4 linked regions of the Homo sapiens genome follow. The protein of the gene in region 1 interacts with the protein of each later gene in a biochemical or structural test. Each region holds a gene or a part of one and is shown in the gene's direction. Other genes may lie near its edges.

Evidence for each region.
Region 2: the proteins of SNTA1 (region 1) and SCN5A interact in a test that uses a peptide from one of them, tested with the Homo sapiens proteins (2 studies listed by BioGRID and IntAct).
Region 3: the proteins of SNTA1 (region 1) and KCNA4 interact in a test that uses a peptide from one of them, tested with the Homo sapiens proteins (2 studies listed by BioGRID and IntAct).
Region 4: the proteins of SNTA1 (region 1) and MAP4 interact in a test that uses a peptide from one of them, tested with the Homo sapiens proteins (2 studies listed by BioGRID and IntAct).

What each region holds. Positions count from the first base shown.
Region 1 is NC_000020.11:33,412,753-33,419,785, reverse strand, and holds part of SNTA1 (alpha-1-syntrophin), read left to right. Parts: intron 1-1,862; coding exon 1,863-2,067; intron 2,068-5,151; exon of another isoform or gene 5,152-7,003; coding exon 7,004-7,033. UniProt on the Homo sapiens protein: Adapter protein that binds to and probably organizes the subcellular localization of a variety of membrane proteins. May link various receptors to the actin cytoskeleton and the extracellular matrix via the dystrophin glycoprotein complex.
Region 2 is NC_000003.12:38,548,655-38,555,687, reverse strand, and holds part of SCN5A (sodium channel protein type 5 subunit alpha), read left to right. Parts: coding exon 1-32; intron 33-1,138; coding exon 1,139-1,409; intron 1,410-4,129; coding exon 4,130-5,367; 3' UTR 5,368-7,033. UniProt on the Homo sapiens protein: Pore-forming subunit of Nav1.5, a voltage-gated sodium (Nav) channel that directly mediates the depolarizing phase of action potentials in excitable membranes.
Region 3 is NC_000011.10:30,009,197-30,014,030, reverse strand, and holds the end of KCNA4 (potassium voltage-gated channel subfamily A member 4), read left to right. Parts: intron 1-570; 5' UTR 571-1,352; coding exon 1,353-3,314; 3' UTR 3,315-4,301; downstream 4,302-4,834. UniProt on the Homo sapiens protein: Voltage-gated potassium channel that mediates transmembrane potassium transport in excitable membranes. Forms tetrameric potassium-selective channels through which potassium ions pass in accordance with their electrochemical gradient.
Region 4 is NC_000003.12:47,915,406-47,922,438, reverse strand, and holds part of MAP4 (microtubule-associated protein 4), read left to right. Parts: intron 1-560; coding exon 561-674; intron 675-3,597; coding exon 3,598-3,720; intron 3,721-5,264; coding exon 5,265-6,488; intron 6,489-7,033. UniProt on the Homo sapiens protein: Non-neuronal microtubule-associated protein. Promotes microtubule assembly.

The sequences.
Region 1 (7,033 bases):
TCACAAGCAAAAAGGATGGAATGATCATGATTTGATTTGACCAATCAAGATTCTCCCTCTAAGCTGGGGAGAAGCTGAGCCTCTAGGGCTCAGGGTTCTCTTAGCAAAGGAAAAAGAGGGGAGATGGTTTTTGGCTGTCAAGTAGGCTGTGATATGTCCCACTTCTGCTGCCCTTTGAGACATAATCCAATAGTCAGTCCTGGGGTAAGTCGTTGCTACAGTGATGATAAGTCATTTGAGTCCTAGTCCCCAAAAGTCAGACCCAGGCTTGCTTCTCCCAAAAAAACCTGACCCTGGTTTCTTTCAACATTGCTTCTATCCCAACCCCAATAGGGTTTGTAACTCCCTCTTATTTGCCTCCATTTGCTTTGAATCCTATCTGAGCCTCAGAGGCATCTCCTGCGACAGAAATAGCTTCTTATCTGGTTCTTCCAGGGAGGTGGGCCAAGAATTACTTCCTAACTCCTTCCTGGGCTGTCCACTCACAGGGCACGTTGGCTGGGCTTTGACTGCAGACGTCAGATAGCTAGCAAGCCAGATGGCCCTGGGAGCAGGTGTGGTTGAGAGCAGAGGAAGAGAGGCTGCCCACGGGCTAGCAGGCATCAGGCACCCACAGAGGGTATATCCTTGTTGGGAGAAGAGAGACAAGGTCTTGGGAAAGTCATCATTTTTTTTTTTTTGAGGCAGTCGCACTTCATCGTCCAGGCTGGAGTGCGCAATCTTGGCTCATTGCAACCTTTGCTTCCCATGTTCAAGTGATTCTCATGCCTCAGCCTCTCGAGTAGCTGGGATTACAGGCATGCACCACCCTGCCCAGCTAACCTTTGTATTATTAGTAGAGACAGGGTTTCACCTTGTTGGCCAGGGTGGTCTTGAACTCCTGACATCAAGTGATCCACACTGCCTTGGCCTCCCAAAGTGCTGGAATTACAGGCATGAGCCACCATGCCCAGCCTGGGAGTCTTTTTTTTTTTTTTTTTTTTTTTTTTTTTTGAGACAGAGTCTTGTTATGTCACCCAGGCTGGAGTACAGTGGCACAATCTTGGCTCACTGCAACCTCCTCCTCCCGGGTTCAAGTGATTCTCCTGCCTCAGCCTCCCCAGTAGCTGGGATTACAGGTGCGAGCCACCACGCCCGGCTAGCTTTTGTATTTTCAGTAGAGACGGGGTTTCACCATGTTGGTCAGGCTGGTTTCAAACTTTTGACCTCAAATGATCTGCCCGCCTTGGCCTCCCAAAGTGCTAGGATTACAGGCATGAGCCAACATGCCCAGCCTGGGAAAGTCTTGTAACCACCTTCTTGTATACACTGTCTAGGAGTTCAAGACCAGCAACATGGCGTGACCCCATCTCTACAAAAAATTAATAGCTGGGTGTGGTAGTGCGTACCTGTAGACCCAGCTACTTGGGGAGCTGAGGTGGGAGGATTGATTGATCTGGGAGATTGAGGCTGTAGCGAGCTGTGATCACACCATGGCACTCTAGTCTGGGTGACAGAGAGAAACTGTCTCAAAAAAAAAAAAAAAAAAGTCACATGGCCACACCTCACTGCAAAGGAGGCTGGGAAATAGAGTCTTTCTTCCAGGTGGCTGTATGTCTATTAACCATGGGGAAAATGAGAGAAGGGATATAGGCGGGCCCTATCTCTATATAGGGATAGAGAGAAGGGATACAGTATTTTCTGCTCCACTGCCCTGTCAGAGACTTTAACTTAGAAGAATTTGTTAATATCACTACTGGACTCTTGCTTACTAAGGGTCTAATAGTGACACGTAAATTAAACTCTTAATAAATTAGTGACAATTGTGATATGTGCTGGGAGCCCATGTCACAGTGGTGACTGCTGATGTCTCTCCCAATCAGTCAAGTATATGAAGGACGTCTCACCGTATTTCAAGAACTCTACTGGTGGGACCTCGGTCGGCTGGGACTCACCTCCTGCCTCACCCCTTCAGCGGCAGCCTTCCTCCCCTGGCCCCACACCCCGGAACTTCAGCGAGGCCAAACACATGTCCTTGAAGATGGCATATGTCTCGAAGAGGTGCACCCCCAATGACCCGGAGCCCAGGTAAGGCTGGGGTTGGGAGCAACTCAGATGGACAGATGCCCTGGCGTCAGGTGGTGGGACCAATGGAAAGACACCTCTGTGTTGTACGAATGACCAGCACAATGCCAGGACATAGTAGGTGCTTAAAAAATAGATTGACTGGAAGCCTGAGTGAAGCCATGGAGATGATGGTGTGCTTTGCTTCTCACTTCTTCCTCTGGGCAGCTCACATCTGGGGATGAACTTGGTCTGAGGAAGAACCCTGCGTTCCAGTCCTGGTCCTCTTTGAACTAGGCCCTTTTCCTCACTGACCTTTAGATTCTCCATTGTGAGATGAGGTTGTTGGACTCACTGATCCTCTCGTCTCTTCCCACTCTGCTGGAGCTCTGAGATGTCTGGTAACCTTTTTATCAGGGCCATGGAAGGTTACATCCTTCACATCTGAGCAGCCTTTAACAGTTCATTGATAATACTGAAACCACCTAACATTTACTGAGTGTTTACTGTGTACCCAGCACTGTGTTGAGTGCTTTCCCTGTGCAATATTATTTAGCTCTCACAGAGGCCCAATGGGCAAAGTCCTATTATTTCACCTCCATTTTATTTTATTTTATTATTATTTTTGAGCCAGAGTTTTGCTCTGTCGCCCAGGCTGGAGTGCAGTGGTGCAAAGATCTTGGCTCACTGCAATTTCTGCCTCCTGGGTTCAAGTGATTCTCCTGCCTTAGCCTCCTAAGTAGCTGGGACTACAGGCGCCCACCACCACACCTGGCTAACTTTTTTTTTTTTTTTTTTTTTTTTGACAGAGTCTCACTCTGTTGCCCAGGTTGGAGTGCAATGGCATGATCTTGGCTCACTGAAACCTCTGCCTTCCAGGTTCAAGCAATTCTCCTCCCTCAGCCTCCCAAGTAGCTGGGATTACGGGCGCCTGCCACCATGCCTGGCTAATTATTTGTATTTTTAGTAGAGACGGGATTCTCCATGTTGGTCAGGCTGGTCACGAACTCCTGACCTCAGGTGATTCCCCCGCCTCAGCCTCCCAAAGTGCTGGGATTATAGGTGTAAGCAACTGTGCCCTGCCTAACTTTTGTATTTTTTGTAGAGATGGGGTTCCACCATGTTGGCCACGCTGGTTTCGCACTGCTGACCTCAGGTGATCTGCCTGCCTCGGCCTCCCAAAGTGCTGGGATTACAGGCATGAGCCATCGTTCCCGGCTCACCTCCATTTTATAGATGAGGACAGAGAGGGGAAGTAACCTACTTGAGATCACACAACCAGAAAGGGTGGCACTTGCCTCAATCCTGGTAGTCCTTTCTGCTTTGGAAGGTGCAAGATACCTGAGTGATGGTGGTGGCTAAATGGAGCATATTTGGTCAAGTGGGATATGCATTGTTGGAGGTGATGCTTAACTGCTATATGCATTACAAGCTTGGGCTGTGGGTCCTAGTGACAGCCTAGGTTCAATGCCAAGCAAATGCCCAACATTGGCTGGGAGGGCTGGTTAACGTCCAGCATCCAAATCTCTTGGTCTCACTCGATGCCACACCTCTTGCCTGCCCCCATGAGGCAAAAACTGGTGATTCACAGGTCACTTGCCGATGCTCTAAAAAAGAGCCTTTGTTTTTGTTTTTGAGACGGAGTATCGCTCTGTTGCCCAGGCTGGAGTGCAGTGGTGTAATCTTGGCTCACTGCGGTCCCCTTCTCCCGGGTTCAAGCGATTCTCCTGCCTCAGACTTCTGAGTAGCTGGGATTACAGGCACCTGCCAACATGCCCAGCTAATTTTGTATTTTTATTAGAGATGGGGTTTCACCATGTTGGTCAGGCTGGTTTGGAACTCCTGACCTCAGGTGATCCGCCCACCTTGGCCTCCTGAAGTGCTAGGATTACAGGCATGAGCCATCGCCTGTATTTTTAATAGACTAATTTTTGTATTTTTTTTTTTTTTGGGACAGAGTCTTCTCTGTTGCCAGGCTGGATGGAGTGCAGTGGTACAATCTCAGCTCACTGCAACCTCCGCCTCCTAGGTTCAGGCAATTCTCCTGCCTCAGCCTCCTGAGTAGCTGGGACTACAGGTGCACGCCGCCATGCCTGACTAATTTTTTTTTTTTTTGTATTTTAGCAGAGACGGGGGTTCACCATGTTGCCCAGGCTGGTCTTGAACTCTTGAGCTCAGGCATTCTGCCTGCCTCGGCCTCCCAAAGTGCTAGGATTACAGGCATGAGCCACCGCGCCCGGCTGTATTTTTACTAGAGACAGGGTTTCACCACATTGGCCAGGCTGATCTCAAACTCCTGACCTCAAGATCCACCCACCTTGGGCTCCCAAAGTGCTGGGATTACAGGGGTGAGCCACCATGCCCGGCCCGGAAGGGCCTTCTGTGAGTGTGAAGGTGAAGTAGTATTAGTCCTTCTAGAGACTCATAGAACCTTAGATTCCCAGCCTGATCCCAGACATTACCTGAAACGTGTGTATATGTTTCTAAGTGTGCGCACGTGTAGATGACATGTAAATGCAAGTGCTTGTATGTATATATGAGAGCATTTGCATGTATGAGTATAGATTTGTACATGTGTGTTTGTTTATATGTTATTTGTATGTGTATGCACATATGTGTGTGCATGTGTGTTTTAACATGTACATGCCTGAGTACCTACATAGGTAACCTCAATATAACTGGGGTTCCATATGGCCCACTGTCAGTGCAGTATCCCAGTCATAGGGATACAGCCTGGCAACCAAAATATAATGAAAACTGCTTCAAACTTTTACTCAGTGTTAGGATTGCACTGGGCTGCAAGTACAGAAACTCCAACAAGCAATGACTTAAATAAAAGGGGTTAATTTTCCCACATGTTTAAAAAGAAGTCCAGGGGTCAGCTATTCAGGCTGCTGTAGATGCTCAAGGATGCCATCAAGGAACTAGGCTTCTAGCTTCCTGCTCTACCATTTTAATTATGGGCGGTTTTCTTCTTCGTGGAGGCAGGATGGTGGCTGCATCCCAAGAATTGTGTTCATATTCCAGGCAGAAATAAGACAAAAGCCAAAGAGTCTTTTCTGCTAGTATTTTGGCTATCTGTTGCTGTATCACAAACCAACCCTAAAATTTAGTGGTTTAGAAAACAATAATTTATTATTTCTTTTTGAGATGGGGGATCTCGCTCTGTCACCCAGGCTGGAGTGCAGTGGTGTGATCTCAGCTCACTGCAACCTCTGCTTCCCAGGTTCAAGTGATTCTGGTGCCTCAGCCTCCCAAGTAGCTGGGACCACAGGTGCCCGCCATGACGTCTGGCTAATTTTTTGTGTTTTTAGAGGAGATGGGGTTTTGCCCTGTTGGCTAGGTTGGTTTTGAACTCCTGGCCTCAAGTGATCTGCCCGGCTCAGCTTCCCAAAGTGCTGGGATTACAGGTGTGAGCCACCATGCCTGGCCTCAAGCCTCTTTAGTTTTGTTGTTGTTTTGTTTTTCTGTTTTTTTTTTTTTTTTTTTTTTTTTTTGGTTTTTGAGACGGAGTTTCGCTTTTGTTGCCCAGGCTGGAGTGCAATGGCACGATCTCAGCTCACTACAACCTCCACTTTCTGGGTTCAAGCGATTCTCCTGCCTCAGCCTCCCTAGTAGCTGGGATTACAGGCATGTGCCACCACACCCAGCTAATTTTGTATTTTTAGTAGAGATGGGGTTTCTCCATGTTGATCAGGCTGGTCTTGAACTCCCTACCTCAGGTGATCCACCCGCTTTGGCTTCCCAAAGTGCTGGGATTACAGGCGTGAGCCATCACACCCTGTCTGTTTTTCTGTTTTTTTAAGATGAGGTCTTGTGCTGTCATCTAGGCTGGAGTGCACTGGCACCCTTATAGCTTACTGCAGCCTCAAACTCCTGGGCTCAAGTGGTTCTCCTGCCTCAGCCTCTAAGTAGCTGGGACTATAGGCACGTGTCACCATGCCTGGCTAATTAAAAAAAAAATTTTTTTTTCTTTTTTAGAGATGAGTGTCTCACTTTGTTGTCCAGGCTGGTCTCGAACTCCTGGGCTCAAGCCATCGTCCTGGCTCAGTCTCCCGAAGTTCTGGGATTACAGGCGTGAGCCACCATGTCCAGCTTAGTTTTTTTTTTTTTTTTCCCCTGCTCTTATTAGTGAATTAGTTTGGTTCTGTGCAACAAGGAGAACCTGGGAGCTGGCCCAGAAGAGGATGTTCCTTAGAAACCAGGAGAAAGGGGCAAGATTAGGAATAGCCACACAGCAATAATTTAGGCCCTATTACACCATCATGCATGTTTCAGTGTGTGTGTATATTTGTGTGTATCTGCATACGTGTAGGCTGGGCACGGTGGCTCATGCCTGTAATCCCAGCACTTTGGAGGGCGAAGGCGGGGTGATCATTTGAGGTCAGGAGTTCGAGACCAGCCTGGCCAACTTGGTGAAACCCCATCTCTACTAAAAATAAAAAAATAAGGCCAGGCATGGTGGCTCATGCCTGTAATCCCAGCACTTTGGGAGGCTGAGGCAGGCGGATCACGGGGTCAGGAGATCGAGACCATCCTGGCCAACATGGTGAAACCCCATCTCTATTAAAAATACAAAAATTATATGGGTGTGGTGGCGTGTGCCTGTAATCCCAGCTACTTGGGAGGCTGAGGCAGGAGAATCACTTGAACCTGGGAGGCAGAGGTTGGGCCATTGCAGTGCAGCCTGGGTGACAGAGCGAGGCTCTGTTTCAAAAACAACAACAAAAACCCCACAAAATATATGAACACGTGTGTATATGTCACACTCGCTTGTTCCTATGCCCCATGAAGCCCCAGCAACTGTGGCTGGAGCCCAGCAGTGAGGGTTGCTCCTGATTCTCTCACGGACATCCCCCTGGTTTCTCCTGGTTTGGTGGTGGGTGGGGTTTCTTGGGCCAGGGTTGGGCAGCTGCAGCCTAATGGTCAGGTCCTTGTCTCCACCCATTTGTGCCTGCAGGTATCTGGAGATCTGCTCGGCAGATGGTCA
Region 2 (7,033 bases), on another chromosome or scaffold:
AGAAGCCCCAGAAGCCCATCCCACGGCCCCTGGTGAGCCAGGCTCCTGGTTTTGTGGGAGTGGGGAGGATCTTCTGGGGTCCCTGGGAAGCTTTCGTGCCACATGGCCAGCCATCAGAGCCGCTTCACAGTCTTTCAGCCCAGCCTGAGGGGCACTATCAGATGTCTGATCATGAAGAGAGGTCCCAGCCTCGTAGAGATAGGGAGGAAGGTATGATAAGGATGTAGCATCCCAGGACACTCCCCACCCACAGGAACCCTCTGTACCTGAGCAAATCTCCTCCTTCCCCTCAAGGATGCAGGCTTTCCCCAGGAAAAGCAGTGCAGCCTTCACAGCCCCACCCCACCCCACTCACAGCCTCATCCTTGGAACCCCAGAACAGTCAGGGAGCCGGATTCCTGAGTCACCTGGTGGGGAGAGCCAAGAGCTCTGGAGAGCGGGGTCCTCTCCAAGACTGACTCCCTTGGCCCAATCAAGCCATTATCCAAAAAATTGTGTGTGTGTGTGTGTGTGTGTGTGTGTGTGTGTTATTTATAATCTTTTCCAAGTGGGAGAACAGAAGAAAAAAAAAAAAAAAAAAAATATATATATATATATATATATATATATATATATATATATATATATATAAAATCTTATTTCTTTCCCCAAATAATCTGGGCTGATTTACAATTAAAGACACATACAAATATGGTTAGTAGAATAAATAAAATAAATTCCATAAAAAAGTGGAGAAAATATATTAATCTAAGCACTGACATAATTACTAAGGTTGAAGTTTAAATTTGCCCTTGAGCCTTCAGACTGTGGGAACTAAAAGGGAAGCACAATGAACAGTGTGCTAAGGATGCTCAGGGCAGGAACAATCTCTCCCTGAAGATCCATCATGGAAGGCCTCATGGAAGATGGAGCTCTGGGGATGGGCCTTGAAGCCCAGGAAGCATTTCAGCAGGACAGCCAGTGGCTTTAGCCTCCAGGACTTTTTCCTCTGCACTCTCTGTGGCAGTGTTGCAGGGGCTTTGGGCTCACTAGAGGGTAGAGTGGGAGGGTGGGTGGTCTGGGATGAGAGGCAGCAACAGGCATTTGCCAGCCTCCCCAAGGGCCCTGCTGAGCACTTTCCATTTGCCTCTCCTTTCAGAACAAGTACCAGGGCTTCATATTCGACATTGTGACCAAGCAGGCCTTTGACGTCACCATCATGTTTCTGATCTGCTTGAATATGGTGACCATGATGGTGGAGACAGATGACCAAAGTCCTGAGAAAATCAACATCTTGGCCAAGATCAACCTGCTCTTTGTGGCCATCTTCACAGGCGAGTGTATTGTCAAGCTGGCTGCCCTGCGCCACTACTACTTCACCAACAGCTGGAATATCTTCGACTTCGTGGTTGTCATCCTCTCCATCGTGGGTGGGTATACAAGTCAGCTGGACGGAGAAGCCCTCCCCAGCCAGGCCTCTCCTCCAGCCCCTGGGTCTCTGCTGAATGCCATGTACAACCCTAGCTTCTTTCATAATTTTTTTCAGTGCATTTCTCACCCCCCTTCTCCCCTCACACATACACGCACACACACCTCTCCAGAGAGAACTTATCTGGAAGGCCCCACTTGGGCCAAGGAGACCAATCTGGCAGAGGACCCAGCACTTGCTCCTGGCCCCACCCTCCAGAGGAACTGGGAACACAGTTCTCTAACTGCTTAGAGAGCTTCAAGGATGAGTCTGGGAATGGGAGTGGGTGCTGTGGAGGCTAATTCTGCCTGCACTTAGGTTGAAGGAGAAGGAAGCTCAGGATGAGATGGGTCCCCAGGGATGGGGGATAGGTGGCCCTCCAGAGTAGAAATTATCCCTGAAGATGGAAAATTCTGGAGCTAACCGCCAAGGTGTATGCCAGACTCCTTCAGACATCACCTGCCTCATGCAATTCACCCAGTCAATTCAGCACCAAAGGAGGGAGATTGTGCAGCTAGGGAGAAGCAGAGACCCAATCCTGACCCATGTCTGTTTGACCTCGGAGCCCAGATCTTTTTTTTATATAACAGCTTTACTGAGACATAATTCACATACCATAAAATTCACGGTTAACTTTAAAGTCACTTTAAAGTATACAATTCAGTGTTTTTTAATATATGCACAGAGCTTTGCAACCATCACCACTATCTAATTTTAGAATATATTCCTTTCCCCAAAGGAAACTCTACCCATTTAATAGTCAATCCCCATTCATTTCCCCTCTCCCTCACCCCTGAAAACCACTTATCTAAAGTTTTGAGGGACCACCAAACTGTTTTTCAATATGGCTGCACCTTTTTACATTCTCGCTGTCAATGTATGAGGATTCCAATTATTTTGCCCTCACCAACACTTGTTATTGCCTGCATTCTTTTTATAGGAGCCCTCCTAGTGAGTATGAAGTGATATCTCACTGAGGTTTTGGTTTGCAAAAGCAAATGACTGATGACTAACGATGCAGGACATCTTTCCATGTGCATGTTGGTCATTTATATATCTTCCTTGGAGAAATCTCTATTCAGATCCTTAGCTCATTTTTAATTGGGTTATTTCTCTTTTTCTTGTTGAGTTGTAAGAGTTCTTTACATATTCTGGATCATAGTCTCTTATCAGATATATGATTTAAAAATATTTTCTCCTAGTCTGTGAGTTTTTTCATTTCCTAGTGGTGTCCATTAAAGCACAAAAGTTTTACATGTTAATGAAGTCCAGTTTACTTATATTTTTTCTTTTGTCACTTGTGCTCGGAGCCCAAACTCTTTAACTCTACCCCCAAGGGGCTCTGCCTTGCGGTGACTGTGACTTTCATCTTTCTGCCATATACAACCTCTGCCTCTGGTAAATGTAAAGGATAATGCAGGGGCTAAGGCAGGCACTGCTGTGGCTATAGTGACGGGAAGATGGAAGCACAAAGTAGGGTCAGGAATCTCTGGGGGGTCTCAAGCAGGATGAGGGTGAGAGCGTGCCTTATGGGACTGGAGAGGAGTTTTAGAGAATGCAGGATGTCAGCAGCAGGAATGGAACCATTGAGGGACAGTCTCAGAGGCTTTGGAAGGTTCAGCATGTACTTTGGGATCTCTCCTGGCCCGCTGTTTGGGCGGTACCAGAGAGGAGGAGTGGTTAAGAGATCAACTTGGAGCCCGAACGTCTGAGTCAAATCCCAGCTTCTCACTCACTAGGTGGCAACTTGGGTAAGTTACCTCACCTCTGTTTCCTCTTCTGGAAGATAAGGATGATGGCATCTGCTCACTTCCTAGGACAATGGGAAGGACTAAATGAAATGATGGCTATAAAGTGCTCGGCCCATTGCCCCAGTGATCGTAAACACTGGACCCATGTCAGTCAGTGACATTATTATATAAGGAGTCTGGAAAGGGCACTTGGGCCATATAAGACAAGTTTATTTCACTCTTTATTCCATGATTTATATCCATGCCCCTTAAAACTCCAAACCCAGGTAGTCACAGGAGACCCAGGGGCAGTGACGCCCTCAAAGGAGGCAGAGTTAGGAGAGCGATAAGAACCATCACAGAGAAGCTGAGAGAAGACACTGGCCATGGCGTGGCATCAGGGAGCACTGATTTCTGGGCCAGTGTTTCATGCCCTTCGATGGGCACATAAATCATCTGGGCTTCTTAAGATGCAATGGGCTGGGGTGGAGCTGAGATTCTGCATTTCTGATAAGCACCTAGGAGATCCCAAGGCTGCTGGTCCTCAAACCACACTTTGAATAGCAAGGAGCTAAAAGACCTGAGTTCTGGCCCAAGCTGGGTGGGCAAGATACTAAGCAGATCCCCTCTGGCCTGAGAACCCAAGATGTAGAAGATGGGCCTAGGACAGCTCTATTGTGTAGGTACACACTGAAGATTAAGGAATGAGGGGGCTGAGAAGGAACCCTGCAAAGGACCCATTTTTCTGGGTCACAGATGCAGACATGGAGACTCAAACAGACAGGAGCAGGCAGAGTCCTAGCATGCCCAGTGGACGCAATCCTGGAAGGGCCGCCTCTCCTTGGCTCCTTGCCATATAGAGACCCCCCCCCCACCGCCAACCCCTGCACAGTGATGCTGGCTGGAAGACAGAGGTGCCACCAGTAGCCACAGTCTCTGTTGTTTCCCACAGGCACTGTGCTCTCGGACATCATCCAGAAGTACTTCTTCTCCCCGACGCTCTTCCGAGTCATCCGCCTGGCCCGAATAGGCCGCATCCTCAGACTGATCCGAGGGGCCAAGGGGATCCGCACGCTGCTCTTTGCCCTCATGATGTCCCTGCCTGCCCTCTTCAACATCGGGCTGCTGCTCTTCCTCGTCATGTTCATCTACTCCATCTTTGGCATGGCCAACTTCGCTTATGTCAAGTGGGAGGCTGGCATCGACGACATGTTCAACTTCCAGACCTTCGCCAACAGCATGCTGTGCCTCTTCCAGATCACCACGTCGGCCGGCTGGGATGGCCTCCTCAGCCCCATCCTCAACACTGGGCCGCCCTACTGCGACCCCACTCTGCCCAACAGCAATGGCTCTCGGGGGGACTGCGGGAGCCCAGCCGTGGGCATCCTCTTCTTCACCACCTACATCATCATCTCCTTCCTCATCGTGGTCAACATGTACATTGCCATCATCCTGGAGAACTTCAGCGTGGCCACGGAGGAGAGCACCGAGCCCCTGAGTGAGGACGACTTCGATATGTTCTATGAGATCTGGGAGAAATTTGACCCAGAGGCCACTCAGTTTATTGAGTATTCGGTCCTGTCTGACTTTGCCGATGCCCTGTCTGAGCCACTCCGTATCGCCAAGCCCAACCAGATAAGCCTCATCAACATGGACCTGCCCATGGTGAGTGGGGACCGCATCCATTGCATGGACATTCTCTTTGCCTTCACCAAAAGGGTCCTGGGGGAGTCTGGGGAGATGGACGCCCTGAAGATCCAGATGGAGGAGAAGTTCATGGCAGCCAACCCATCCAAGATCTCCTACGAGCCCATCACCACCACACTCCGGCGCAAGCACGAAGAGGTGTCGGCCATGGTTATCCAGAGAGCCTTCCGCAGGCACCTGCTGCAACGCTCTTTGAAGCATGCCTCCTTCCTCTTCCGTCAGCAGGCGGGCAGCGGCCTCTCCGAAGAGGATGCCCCTGAGCGAGAGGGCCTCATCGCCTACGTGATGAGTGAGAACTTCTCCCGACCCCTTGGCCCACCCTCCAGCTCCTCCATCTCCTCCACTTCCTTCCCACCCTCCTATGACAGTGTCACTAGAGCCACCAGCGATAACCTCCAGGTGCGGGGGTCTGACTACAGCCACAGTGAAGATCTCGCCGACTTCCCCCCTTCTCCGGACAGGGACCGTGAGTCCATCGTGTGAGCCTCGGCCTGGCTGGCCAGGACACACTGAAAAGCAGCCTTTTTCACCATGGCAAACCTAAATGCAGTCAGTCACAAACCAGCCTGGGGCCTTCCTGGCTTTGGGAGTAAGAAATGGGCCTCAGCCCCGCGGATCAACCAGGCAGAGTTCTGTGGCGCCGCGTGGACAGCCGGAGCAGTTGGCCTGTGCTTGGAGGCCTCAGATAGACCTGTGACCTGGTCTGGTCAGGCAATGCCCTGCGGCTCTGGAAAGCAACTTCATCCCAGCTGCTGAGGCGAAATATAAAACTGAGACTGTATATGTTGTGAATGGGCTTTCATAAATTTATTATATTTGATATTTTTTTACTTGAGCAAAGAACTAAGGATTTTTCCATGGACATGGGCAGCAATTCACGCTGTCTCTTCTTAACCCTGAACAAGAGTGTCTATGGAGCAGCCGGAAGTCTGTTCTCAAAGCAGAAGTGGAATCCAGTGTGGCTCCCACAGGTCTTCACTGCCCAGGGGTCGAATGGGGTCCCCCTCCCACTTGACCTGAGATGCTGGGAGGGCTGAACCCCCACTCACACAAGCACACACACACAGTCCTCACACACGGAGGCCAGACACAGGCCGTGGGACCCAGGCTCCCAGCCTAAGGGAGACAGGCCTTTCCCTGCCGGCCCCCCAAGGATGGGGTTCTTGTCCACGGGGCTCACTCTGGCCCCCTATTGTCTCCAAGGTCCCATTTTCCCCCTGTGTTTTCACGCAGGTCATATTGTCAGTCCTACAAAAATAAAAGGCTTCCAGAGGAGAGTGGCCTGGGTCCCAGGGCTGGCCCTAGGCACTGATAGTTGCCTTTTCTTCCCCTCCTGTAAGAGTATTAACAAAACCAAAGGACACAAGGGTGCAAGCCCCATTCACGGCCTGGCATGCAGCTTGTCCTTGCTCCTGGAACCTGGCAGGCCCTGCCCAGCCAGCCATCGGAAGAGAGGGCTGAGCCATGGGGGTTTGGGGCTAAGAAGTTCACCAGCCCTGAGCCATGGCGGCCCCTCAGCCTGCCTGAAGAGAGGAAACTGGCGATCTCCCAGGGCTCTCTGGACCATACGCGGAGGAGTTTTCTGTGTGGTCTCCAGCTCCTCTCCAGACACAGAGACATGGGAGTGGGGAGCGGAGCTTGGCCCTGCGCCCTGTGCAGGGAAAGGGATGGTCAGGCCCAGTTCTCGTGCCCTTAGAGGGGAATGAACCATGGCACCTTTGAGAGAGGGGGCACTGTGGTCAGGCCCAGCCTCTCTGGCTCAGCCCGGGATCCTGATGGCACCCACACAGAGGACCTCTTTGGGGCAAGATCCAGGTGGTCCCATAGGTCTTGTGAAAAGGCTTTTTCAGGGAAAAATATTTTACTAGTCCAATCACCCCCAGGACCTCTTCAGCTGCTGACAATCCTATTTAGCATATGCAAATCTTTTAACATAGAGAACTGTCACCCTGAGGTAACAGGGTCAACTGGCGAAGCCTGAGCAGGCAGGGGCTTGGCTGCCCCATTCCAGCTCTCCCATGGAGCCCCTCCACCGGGCGCATGCCTCCCAGGCCACCTCAGTCTCACCTGCCGGCTCTGGGCTGGCTGCTCCTAACCTACCTCGCCGAGCTGTCGGAGGGCTGGACATTTGTGGCAGTGCTGAAGGGGG
Region 3 (4,834 bases), on another chromosome or scaffold:
GTGTTATTATTTGTACTTTATAGATGAGGTGACTGAAGTGCATTCAAGTGGTGCTGTCTGCACAAAGAATAAGAATATTATTATTTTTTTTTCTGACTTCCCCAGTGCTGAGTCAAGATAGAGAGGAGTAGAAGGGCACTTAATTCAGAAACACTTTATGAGTGGAAATTTTAAAAATTGCCTTGAAATAGATGAATGATGGAAGCAGCTGTAAAGTCACAGCATTATTTTTTGTGGAATGAAGAGAGTGACAGTGAGAATTAAGACCTAGCATTGGTGAAGGGGAAGATAGAAGCAAGAGCCATGTGGGCCATGAGTGGAGAGAGGAAAAATAATTGAGTTACCATAAAAATAAACTGAGCTGAAATAATAACTGAAGAAGGAAAGAATGATGTTTAGTGAGTGAGAATAGCCTGCCCCATACTCTTGAAAATATTGGTGCTTGGTGTGTTATATGACTTTCTTGAAGAAAAGAGAAGGATGTGTATGTGAAGAGAAATGCTCAGTTTGCTCTTTATGATTTGTTTCCTTTTTATTTTTCTCCTATGCTTCTTTCCAATCCTTTTTCAGGTGAAGTGCTTCTTCTGCATGATTTTGGCTGAAGAATGCTCTGCATTTCCTTGATTTCTATGGAGACCTCAGAGCTGGTTTTGCTTCTGCTGACACCTCATCTAGCACCTTCTCTACCTCCCAGGGTCTTTGCCTCTATCTGTGGTTTGGCATTGTACCTGGGTACAGGAAGCCTTTGATGAACTTAAAAGGAGAGCCTGGAGAATCATCCTGATAGACTTTGAGTAGAAATGGCTGGACATACTTCAAACCACATCTTAACATGGTTCGAGCCATCACTAGAAGGCAAGTGCTAACAGTAAAGGCTTATTTGCATTTTATTTACATTTAATGGACTGAGCATTGGCCAATTTCCATGGCAGAAAAATATATTTCATTTTCTAGGCACAACTTCTGGCTGTCAGACACTTGCTGCCTTTGAATCTTGCAGCAACATCACTAACCACATCCCAGACATATTTCCAAATTTCAACATCTACCCCCAAAACATAGGTGTCTGAGAGACTCCAGCATTTTCGGACTTCTTAGTCTTGAGAGTGCCAGGCTATTTATCTCGACCAGCCAAGCTCTGGAGAGCAATGTTGAATCCCTGAGAAGAGAGAGCATGGGGCGTGCTGATTTAAAAACAGAAAATGCAAAGTTGGACTGAAAATATCCTTAGTCTTCCAAGCAATCTGCTTAAGGGTTCCAAACTTACCTTAATTTGGTGAGAAAAGAAGCTGCCCTATTTTTCTTTCTTCTTCTTCTACAACTGGAACCAGCCATTTCCGAAAACCACCACCATGGAGGTTGCAATGGTGAGTGCGGAGAGCTCAGGGTGCAACAGTCACATGCCTTATGGTTATGCTGCCCAGGCCCGGGCCCGGGAGCGGGAGAGGCTTGCTCACTCCAGGGCAGCTGCAGCAGCTGCTGTTGCAGCGGCCACAGCTGCTGTCGAAGGTAGCGGGGGTTCTGGTGGGGGCTCCCACCACCACCACCAGTCACGCGGGGCCTGTACCTCCCATGACCCTCAGAGCAGCCGGGGTAGTCGGAGGAGGAGGCGACAGCGGTCTGAGAAGAAGAAAGCCCACTACCGGCAGAGCAGCTTCCCTCATTGCTCTGACCTGATGCCCAGTGGCTCTGAGGAGAAGATCCTGAGGGAGCTGAGTGAGGAGGAGGAAGATGAGGAGGAGGAGGAAGAGGAGGAAGAGGAGGGAAGGTTTTACTATAGTGAAGATGACCATGGTGATGAGTGTTCCTACACGGATCTGCTGCCTCAGGATGAGGGCGGTGGCGGCTACAGTTCAGTCCGCTACAGTGACTGTTGTGAACGTGTGGTGATAAATGTGTCAGGCCTACGCTTTGAGACCCAAATGAAAACTCTGGCCCAGTTTCCAGAGACTTTGTTGGGAGACCCTGAAAAGAGGACTCAGTACTTTGACCCTTTGCGCAATGAGTATTTTTTTGACAGGAACCGCCCCAGCTTTGATGCCATCTTGTATTATTATCAATCAGGAGGCCGCCTGAAGAGGCCAGTCAATGTCCCCTTTGATATCTTCACTGAGGAGGTGAAGTTCTATCAGTTGGGGGAGGAGGCCCTGTTGAAGTTTCGGGAGGACGAGGGCTTTGTGAGAGAAGAGGAAGACAGGGCCCTCCCCGAGAATGAATTTAAAAAGCAGATTTGGCTCCTCTTTGAATATCCAGAGAGCTCCAGTCCTGCAAGGGGCATAGCCATTGTGTCCGTCCTGGTCATCTTAATCTCCATTGTCATCTTTTGCCTGGAAACCTTGCCTGAGTTTAGGGACGACAGGGATCTCGTCATGGCACTGAGTGCTGGCGGGCATGGTGGGTTGTTGAATGATACTTCAGCACCCCATCTGGAGAACTCAGGGCACACAATATTCAATGACCCCTTCTTCATCGTGGAAACAGTCTGTATTGTATGGTTTTCCTTTGAGTTTGTGGTTCGCTGCTTTGCTTGTCCCAGCCAAGCACTCTTCTTCAAAAACATCATGAACATCATTGACATTGTCTCCATTTTGCCTTACTTCATCACACTGGGCACTGACCTGGCCCAGCAACAGGGGGGTGGCAATGGTCAGCAGCAGCAGGCCATGTCCTTTGCCATCCTCAGAATCATTCGTCTGGTCCGAGTATTCCGGATCTTCAAACTCTCCAGGCACTCCAAAGGCCTGCAGATCCTGGGCCACACCCTCAGAGCCAGCATGCGGGAACTGGGCCTTCTGATCTTCTTCCTCTTCATTGGGGTCATCCTCTTTTCTAGTGCTGTGTATTTTGCAGAGGCGGATGAACCTACTACCCATTTCCAAAGCATCCCAGATGCATTTTGGTGGGCTGTGGTGACCATGACAACTGTGGGCTATGGGGACATGAAGCCCATCACTGTAGGGGGCAAGATTGTCGGGTCCCTGTGTGCCATTGCGGGTGTCTTAACCATTGCTTTGCCAGTGCCAGTGATTGTCTCTAACTTTAACTATTTCTACCACAGAGAGACTGAAAATGAGGAACAGACACAGCTAACGCAGAATGCAGTCAGTTGTCCATACCTCCCCTCTAATTTGCTCAAGAAATTTCGGAGCTCTACTTCTTCTTCCCTGGGGGACAAGTCAGAGTATCTAGAGATGGAAGAAGGAGTTAAGGAATCTCTGTGTGCAAAGGAGGAGAAGTGTCAGGGAAAGGGGGATGACAGTGAGACAGATAAAAACAACTGTTCTAATGCAAAGGCTGTGGAGACTGATGTGTGAATCTTTTTCCACCTGCCACTGCTCCCCCCTCAGCATCTCCAAATATATTTATGCATAGAGAGTGCAGTTATGAAAATGAAATATGCAAATGATCCAATGCATACAGTAGTACACTATTTAATGGTTATACATGGCATAATTGTTACTAAACTTGTATTACATATCAAATAAATGATACATCTTGGAGAAGAGGGAGGAATAGGAGCAAATCTATCTTTATATTTTTATTAGAATGCAAGAATTTTGCACATTAACTGGAAAAGATGTTAACAGTAAAGATGGAGAGAGAGAGTGTGTGCGTGTGTGTGTATATGTGTGTGTGTGTGAAGTAAATTGTCAATGTTAGTAATTGTGCAGTGAAGGGAAAAGTTGGCATTTTGAAGTATTTACTATGTAAGAACTAATGAATCTGAGCAGTCATTTATCAGTGCTTTAACAGCATATCGTATGTCTTTGGATTCTGTAGTTGTTTTTTAAAAATTGTAAGAAATACTGTGTAGAGAAAAAAGAAAGTAAATTATTTAATAGACTATAGGTCACAATTTTATCTTGGATTTAATTAAAATTTATTTTTAACTGGAAATTAACTTTTAAAAAGGCTGCAAGGGCCTTTAGAAATTGATTATATTTTGTTATTAATTTTGGGAAGACTTAACAGCAAATGTCTAACATTATAGAATAAGTGAAATTGGAGAATATGTAATAAGTTTTGTTTGCAGGTAACAGGACTGGATTTTTTTTTCTTTGCACTACTTTATATGCTGGAGATTGAGAGAGACTTCAAACTGTGAATGTTTACTAATGTAACAGTTCAATGACAATCATTGGAAGAATGATTTCTTTAGTCTTATTTTATTGTTTTCTTTTCATTGTGTGAGACTAATGATCATGCAGATAACATCACAGGATTCTCTCCTCTTTTAAAATCTAAATAACTGATTGACAAAGGAATTATGAAGTAAAATTTAGCAACTGAATCTTTTGAAATTGGTCTGTTAGAATGATGCTTCTGAAATCATACTATTTTATATATTCTTCTGCCTTTTAACTCCAGAATAATTTAACCAAAGTTAATGCATGCACTGAAAGAATTCTTGAAGAAGATGCCAAGCAGCTACAGTGATTATGGCTTAAAATTTTTCTATTAAATGTGAAACATAAACGCTAGATTTATTAAGTTTATTTTTTTGTGCAGTTATATAAGAACAGAATTTGGGGATTAACCTCAGATTTTAACATTATATTTGCTAAAATGGACATAAGGAAGAATTGTGTCAAACATTTGGTTTCAACATCACCATCATTATTATCTTTATTAAAGGAATTTATGACACATATAACTGCATTTAAGTCATGACAAAGCATTCTAGAATGTGAGATAACAACTAGCGATCAGCCTTGCACTATGAAATCATGAGGTATAGGTTAGAAAACTCAGAATGCATAAGAGGCCTTATTCTACAATGTTTATTTAACTTCTGTTCTTTATAAAATGATTGTCTTGAGCTCTGGTTGGGGGC
Region 4 (7,033 bases), on another chromosome or scaffold:
CTTTTTGTTTTATGCATTTGTTGGCTATCTGATGTACATAACCAAATCTTAGAGAAGGGATTATTTATTATTAACTCATAACAAATGAATTAGTGAATATTGATTCTCTACCATGTGCAGTCACATATGATTTCGGTTTACTTACTATTGACAACTCATCTATATTCATCATAGGATAATAAGAAATATTGGCCAGGCATGGTGGCTCACGCCTGTAATCCTAATACTTTGGGAGGCCGAGGTGGGCAGATCACTTGAGATCAGGAGTTTGAGACTAGCCTGGCCAACGTGGAGAAACCTTGTCTCTACAAAAAAATACAAAAATTAGCCAGGCATGGTGGCGGGCATCTGTAATCCCAGCTACTTAAGAGGCTGAGGCAGGAGAATTGCTTGAACCTGGGAGGTAGAGGTTGCAGTGAACCAAGATGGCACCACTGCACTCCAGCCTTGGCAACAGAGCAAGACTCCACCTCAAAAAAAAAAAAGAAAGAAAGAAAGAAATATTAATCTTTCTAGTTGCATTCACCAGGAATGAGTTTTGGATTTCTTCTATATTCCAGATCCCTTTAAGATGTACCATGATGATGACCTGGCAGATTTGGTCTTTCCCTCCAGTGCGACAGCTGATACTTCAATATTTGCAGGACAAAATGATCCCTTGAAAGACAGTTACGGTATGGCTTCTTCAAATGGATTTATTCTGTAGGGAAGGAAAAAAATTTTTTCTTTACTCATCTTTGGTTCACTGACTAGGGCTCTGTGACAAAAGATTAACAAGAAAAAAGAGACCAAAGTTTAAAATGTGAATTTAATATGTACATGAGAGGTACCTAGGGAATGAGTAACTCCGCAAGAGGTGGCTTTAGAATTCCACCTTATATAGCTTCTTCAATAAAGAATGACAAATTTTTTTTTTGAGAGGTGAGAAGATGAAGGAAAAGACTTTTGAGTCTCTAGGGGCCGCAAATTGTGGGAGACAGGTAAATGGTAGGTAAAAGCTAGTTAGTAAAGGTTGCTGTGTAGATTCCTATGGTGCCATCTCCAGGCTAATAATAGCCTTCAGCTTAAAAAAGTCCTTATGCCAAAGTAGCGTATTTTGGGGTGGCATATTCTGGTGTCCTTTAGTTGTTTAATGCCAAACAATCAACATGGCCTTTCACACATCACCTTTGAAGCTAACCACTAAGAAAAGTCAGATTTAGGGGCTGTGGGTGTGACAAGGCTCTCTTTGGATTAATCAAAGGAGACAATTCACAGATTCACAGTTGGGCTGTCATCTCCCCTTTTTTTTGAGACAGGGTCTCACTCTGTCACCCAGGTTGGAGTGCAGTGATGCGATCACGGCCCACTGCAGCCTTGGCCTCCTGGTCAGGTGATCCTCCCACCTCAATCTCCTGAGCAGCTGGGATTACAGGTGTGTACCACTATGCCTGGCTAATTTTTTGTAGAGATGGGGTTTTGTCACGTTGCCCAGGCTGGTCTTGAACTCCTGGGCTCAAGTGATCCACCCGCTTCAGCCTCCCAAAGTGCTGAGATTACAGGCGTGAGCCTTTGCACCCAGCCACATTTTTCTACTTCTTCATTTACAGGCAGACACAGTGGCTCATGCCTGTAACCCTAGCACTTTGGGAAGCTGAGGTGACAGGATTGCTTGAGCCCAGCAATTTGAAACCAATCTGGGCAACATAGGGAGATCCTGTCCTACAAAAAATTTTAAAATTCATCCAGGCGTGGTGGCACATGCCTGTAGTCTCAGCTACTCAAGAGGCTGAGGTGGAAGGATTGCTTGAGCCCAGAAGGTCGAGGCTGCATTGAGCCATGATCATGCCACTGTACTCCAGCCTGGACAACAGAGTTGAGACCCTGTCTTAAAAAAAAAAAAAAAAAAAAAAAACCATCTGGGTGCAGTGGCACACGCCCGTAATCCCAGCACTTTGGGAGGCCAAGGCGGATGGATCACTTGAGGCCAGGAGTTCAAGACCAGCCTGGCCAAAATGGTGAAATCCCGTCTCTACTAAAAATACAAAAATTAGGCTGGGCCTAATGGCTCATGCCTGTAATCCCAGCACTTTGGGAGGCAGAGGCGGGCAGATCACCTGAGGTCAGGAGTTTGAGACCAGCCTGGCCAACATGGTGAAACCCCATCTCTACTAAAAATAGAAAAATTAGGCCGAGTGTGGTGGCTCATGCCTGTAATCCCAGCACTTTGGGAGACGGAGGTGGGCAGATCACCTGAGGTCAGGAGTTCGAGACCAGCCTGGCCAACATGGTGAAACACTGTCTCGACTAAAAATACAAAAATTAGCTGGGAGTGGTGGCAGACACCTATAATCCCAGCTACTCAGGAGGCTGAGTCAGAAGAATCACTTGAACCTGGGAGGTGGAGGTTGCAGTGAGCTGAGATTGTGCCATTGCACTCCAGCCTGGGCAACGAGCAAGAATCCATCTCAAAAATTAATAAATAAATATAATAAAAATAAGAAAATTAGCTGGGCAAACAACAACAACAACAACAACAACAAAACTGCTACAAAGTATTTTAATAAAATTGTCTTCTAATGTTGGAAAGGGAGGTGTTAATCTCATTTTGCAGATGAAGAAATTAAGACTCGCAGTTTTTTACTATAGTATATTATGTTGGTTGTGGTGTTGGAACTAGAGTTCAATCATTAATATTTTGAATCTTTATATTACCCTTTATATATTATATAGAAAGTAGCCAGTGAATGTTGATTAATGGCACTACTGGGATATACTATACCACCTACTAACAACTAGCTAAAACCTGAAGAATGTCAGCAGTGTTTCCTTTAAAACTTGTTTGCGTTGTCGGCCGGGCGCGGTGTCTCACACCTGTAATCCCAGCACGTTGGGAGGCCAAGGCGGGTGGATCATGAGGTCAGGAGTTCGAGACCAATCTGGCCAACATAGTGACACCCCATCTCTATTAAAAATACAAAAAAATTAGCCAGGTGTGGTGGTGTGTGCTTGTAGTCCCAGCTACTTGAGAGGCTGAGGCAGGAGAATGGCGTGAACCTGGGAGGCAGAGATTGCAGCGAGCCGAGATCGTGCCATTGCACTCCAGCCCAGGCGACAGTGCGAGACTCTGTCTCAAAAAAAGAAAAAAAACTTTTTTTGCATTGTTTTTTATTAGTCTGTGTCTTCCTGGCAATATATGCAGCTGATTTTAAATATCAAATACCTCTTAGGCCGGGCGCGGTGGTTCACGCCTGTAATCCCAGCACTTTGGGAGGCCGAGGCGGTTGGATCAAGAGGTCAGGAGATCGAGACTATCCGGGCTAACATGGTGAAACCCCGCCTCTACTAAAAATACAAAAAATTAGCCGGGAGCTGTGGCAGGCGCCTGTAGTCCCAGCTACTCGGGAGACTGAGGCAGGAGAATGGCGTGAACCCGGGAAGCGGAGCTTGCAGTGAGCCGAGATCACGCCACTTCACTCTGTCTGCGTGGGCAACAGAGCGAAACTCTGTCTCAAAAAAAAAACAAACAAAACAAAACAAAACAAAAATATATCAAATACCTTTTGTTTCCAATGTTTACTAAGTTTCAAAATGTATTTGTTTGTGTTTCAATATTAGGTATGTCTCCCTGCAACACAGCTGTTGTACCTCAGGGGTGGTCTGTGGAAGCCTTAAACTCTCCACACTCAGAGTCCTTTGTTTCCCCAGAGGCTGTTGCAGAACCTCCTCAGCCAACGGCAGGTAAACTATTAGAGACTCCCTTTATCAGTTAATGGTTGCAGTATTGGTAATCAATATAAATCATCAGGTGTATTTTTTAGCAGCTTACAGCAGGTATAAAAATTTCAGAACAATCACAAATGTTTTGCTTATATTAGTGATATCACCACTGGAGGAATTAAATTGTTGAACTATAACACTTAGGGTTAACGGGCACATAAATACTTTTTTTAAATTTTTTAACATATATATATTTTTTTCATCACATTTTCATTGTATTAGGTATCAGAATTTTTTTTTTTAATTCAGTACAGATTTACGGCCTGGTGTGGTGGCTCACACTTATAATCCCAGCACTTTGGGAAGCTGAGGCAGGCAGATCACTTGAGGTCAGGAGTTCCAGACCAGCCCAGCCAACATGGTGAAACCCCATTTCTACAAAAAATACAAAAATTGGTCTAGGCACGGTGGCTCACGCCTGTAATCCCAACACTTTGGGAGGCCAAGGCGGGCAGATCACCTGAGGTCAGGAGTTCGAGACCAGCCTGGCCAACATGGTGAAACCCCGTCTCTACTAAAAATACAAAAAATTAGCTGGGCGTGGTGGCAGGTGCCTGTAATCCCAGCTACTAGGGAGGCTGAGGCAGGAGAATCACTTGAAACCGGAAGGCAGAGGTTGCTGTCAGCCGAGATTGCGCCACTGCACTCCAGCCTGGGTGAAAGAGCTAAATAAATAAATAAATAAGCTCAGCGTGGTGGCGTGTACCTATAATCCCAGCTACTAGGGAGGCTGAGACAGGAGAATTGCTTGAACCCGGGAGCCGAGATCATGCTACTGCACTCCAGCTTGGGCAACAGCGTGAGACCGTGTCTCAAAAAACAAAAACAAAAATTCAGTACAGATTTAGAACTCTGGAGTTTTTCTTGATAGGAAGCATGACTGACCTGCTGTCCCACAGATTATCTTTCTAATACTAATTCTGTGCCCGTGTTATTTTTGAAGCCTATGTTTTCTCTCTTCTTTGCCATTTCTCCTCCACTACTTGTCCTCCCAGTATTTTACATCTTATTCTTCCAAGTGTTGAGACTGTCAAAGAGTAGGCAGAATATGTTACTTGACATTAGCTTCTTCTTCTTTTTTTTTTTTTTTTTTTGAGACGGACTCTTGCCCTGTCCCCCAGGCTGGAGTGCAATGCCGTGATCTCGGTTCATTGCAAACTCCGCCTCCTGGGTTCTAGCAATTCTCCTGCTTCAGCCTCCCAAGTAGCTGGGATTACAGGCGCCTGCCACTGCATGGCTAATTTCTGTATTTTTAGTAGAGACAGGGTTTCACCATGTTTGTCAGGCTGGTCTCGAACTCCTGACCTCAGATGATCCATCCGCCTCGGCCTCCCAAAGTTCTGGGATTACAGGCGTGAGCCACTGTGCCCGGCCTAACATTAATTCTTAGTTATGTGTACAGTCTTATGGTCACAAAAGCCAAATACTCTCATGCCTGAAGAAAGTAAGCATTTTTAATGCAAAGGTATGAGTAGACAATGATGTGTCCTAAATTTCCAATTTAGTTCCCTTAGAGCTAGCCAAGGAGATAGAAATGGCATCAGAAGAGAGGCCACCAGCACAAGCATTGGAAATAATGATGGGACTGAAGACTACTGACATGGCACCATCTAAAGAAACAGAGATGGCCCTCGCCAAGGACATGGCACTAGCTACAAAAACCGAGGTGGCATTGGCTAAAGATATGGAATCACCCACCAAATTAGATGTGACACTGGCCAAGGACATGCAGCCATCCATGGAATCAGATATGGCCCTAGTCAAGGACATGGAACTACCCACAGAAAAAGAAGTGGCCCTGGTTAAGGATGTCAGATGGCCCACAGAAACAGATGTATCTTCAGCCAAGAATGTGGTACTGCCCACAGAAACAGAGGTAGCCCCAGCCAAGGATGTGACACTGTTGAAAGAAACAGAGAGGGCATCTCCTATAAAAATGGACTTAGCCCCTTCCAAGGACATGGGACCACCCAAAGAAAACAAGAAAGAAACAGAGAGGGCATCTCCTATAAAAATGGACTTGGCTCCTTCCAAGGACATGGGACCACCCAAAGAAAACAAGATAGTCCCAGCCAAGGATTTGGTATTACTCTCAGAAATAGAGGTGGCACAGGCTAATGACATTATATCATCCACAGAAATATCCTCTGCTGAGAAGGTGGCTTTGTCCTCAGAAACAGAGGTAGCCCTGGCCAGGGACATGACACTGCCCCCGGAAACCAACGTGATCTTGACCAAGGATAAAGCACTACCTTTAGAAGCAGAGGTGGCCCCAGTCAAGGACATGGCTCAACTCCCAGAAACAGAAATAGCCCCGGCCAAGGATGTGGCTCCGTCCACAGTAAAAGAAGTGGGCTTGTTGAAGGACATGTCTCCACTATCAGAAACAGAAATGGCTCTGGGCAAGGATGTGACTCCACCTCCAGAAACAGAAGTAGTTCTCATCAAGAACGTATGTCTGCCTCCAGAAATGGAGGTGGCCCTGACTGAGGATCAGGTCCCAGCCCTCAAAACAGAAGCACCCCTGGCTAAGGATGGGGTTCTGACCCTGGCCAACAATGTGACTCCAGCCAAAGATGTTCCACCACTCTCAGAAACAGAGGCAACACCAGTTCCAATTAAAGACATGGAAATTGCACAAACACAAAAAGGAATAAGTGAGGATTCCCATTTAGAATCTCTGCAGGATGTGGGGCAGTCAGCTGCACCTACTTTCATGATTTCACCAGGTACGTGCTTGTGCTTATTCTCAGTATTTCTCTCTACCAGGTTGTAGTCTCGAGAAGACTAAGGACAAACATCATGCCAGGTAAAGTACAGACAGTCACACTGTACTTTGCAAGTTTATTCATACTCCTGCTCTCCTAGACAACTCTTTCCCGCCTTTACCCTCCTCCCACCTCCAACACCTTTTCTATGTTCATTCTCTGCTGATTGTCCTGTTTTTCTTGCAGATAAGTCAAGCAATAAAATAGAACATCGACAAACTTCTATTCCATTATCTACCCAACTACTTGTATCTGTATCCATGGTCTCTGCTTATGAAAGTTCCCGTTTTTATAAGTAAACTGTTCCTGCTCCTAATTAAGACCAACCTCTCCTCATTTTGCCCTAGATTCCATCTCCTCTTTCCTACTCGATATATTGCCCCATGTATTCTTCCCTTTTTTGCCCCTCATACCAATTTAAATCTTTTTTCATTGGATCATTCCCACCCATTTAACAAACGTTTGTTATTTTTCCCATCTTAAAAAACGAAACATTGACCGGGCAT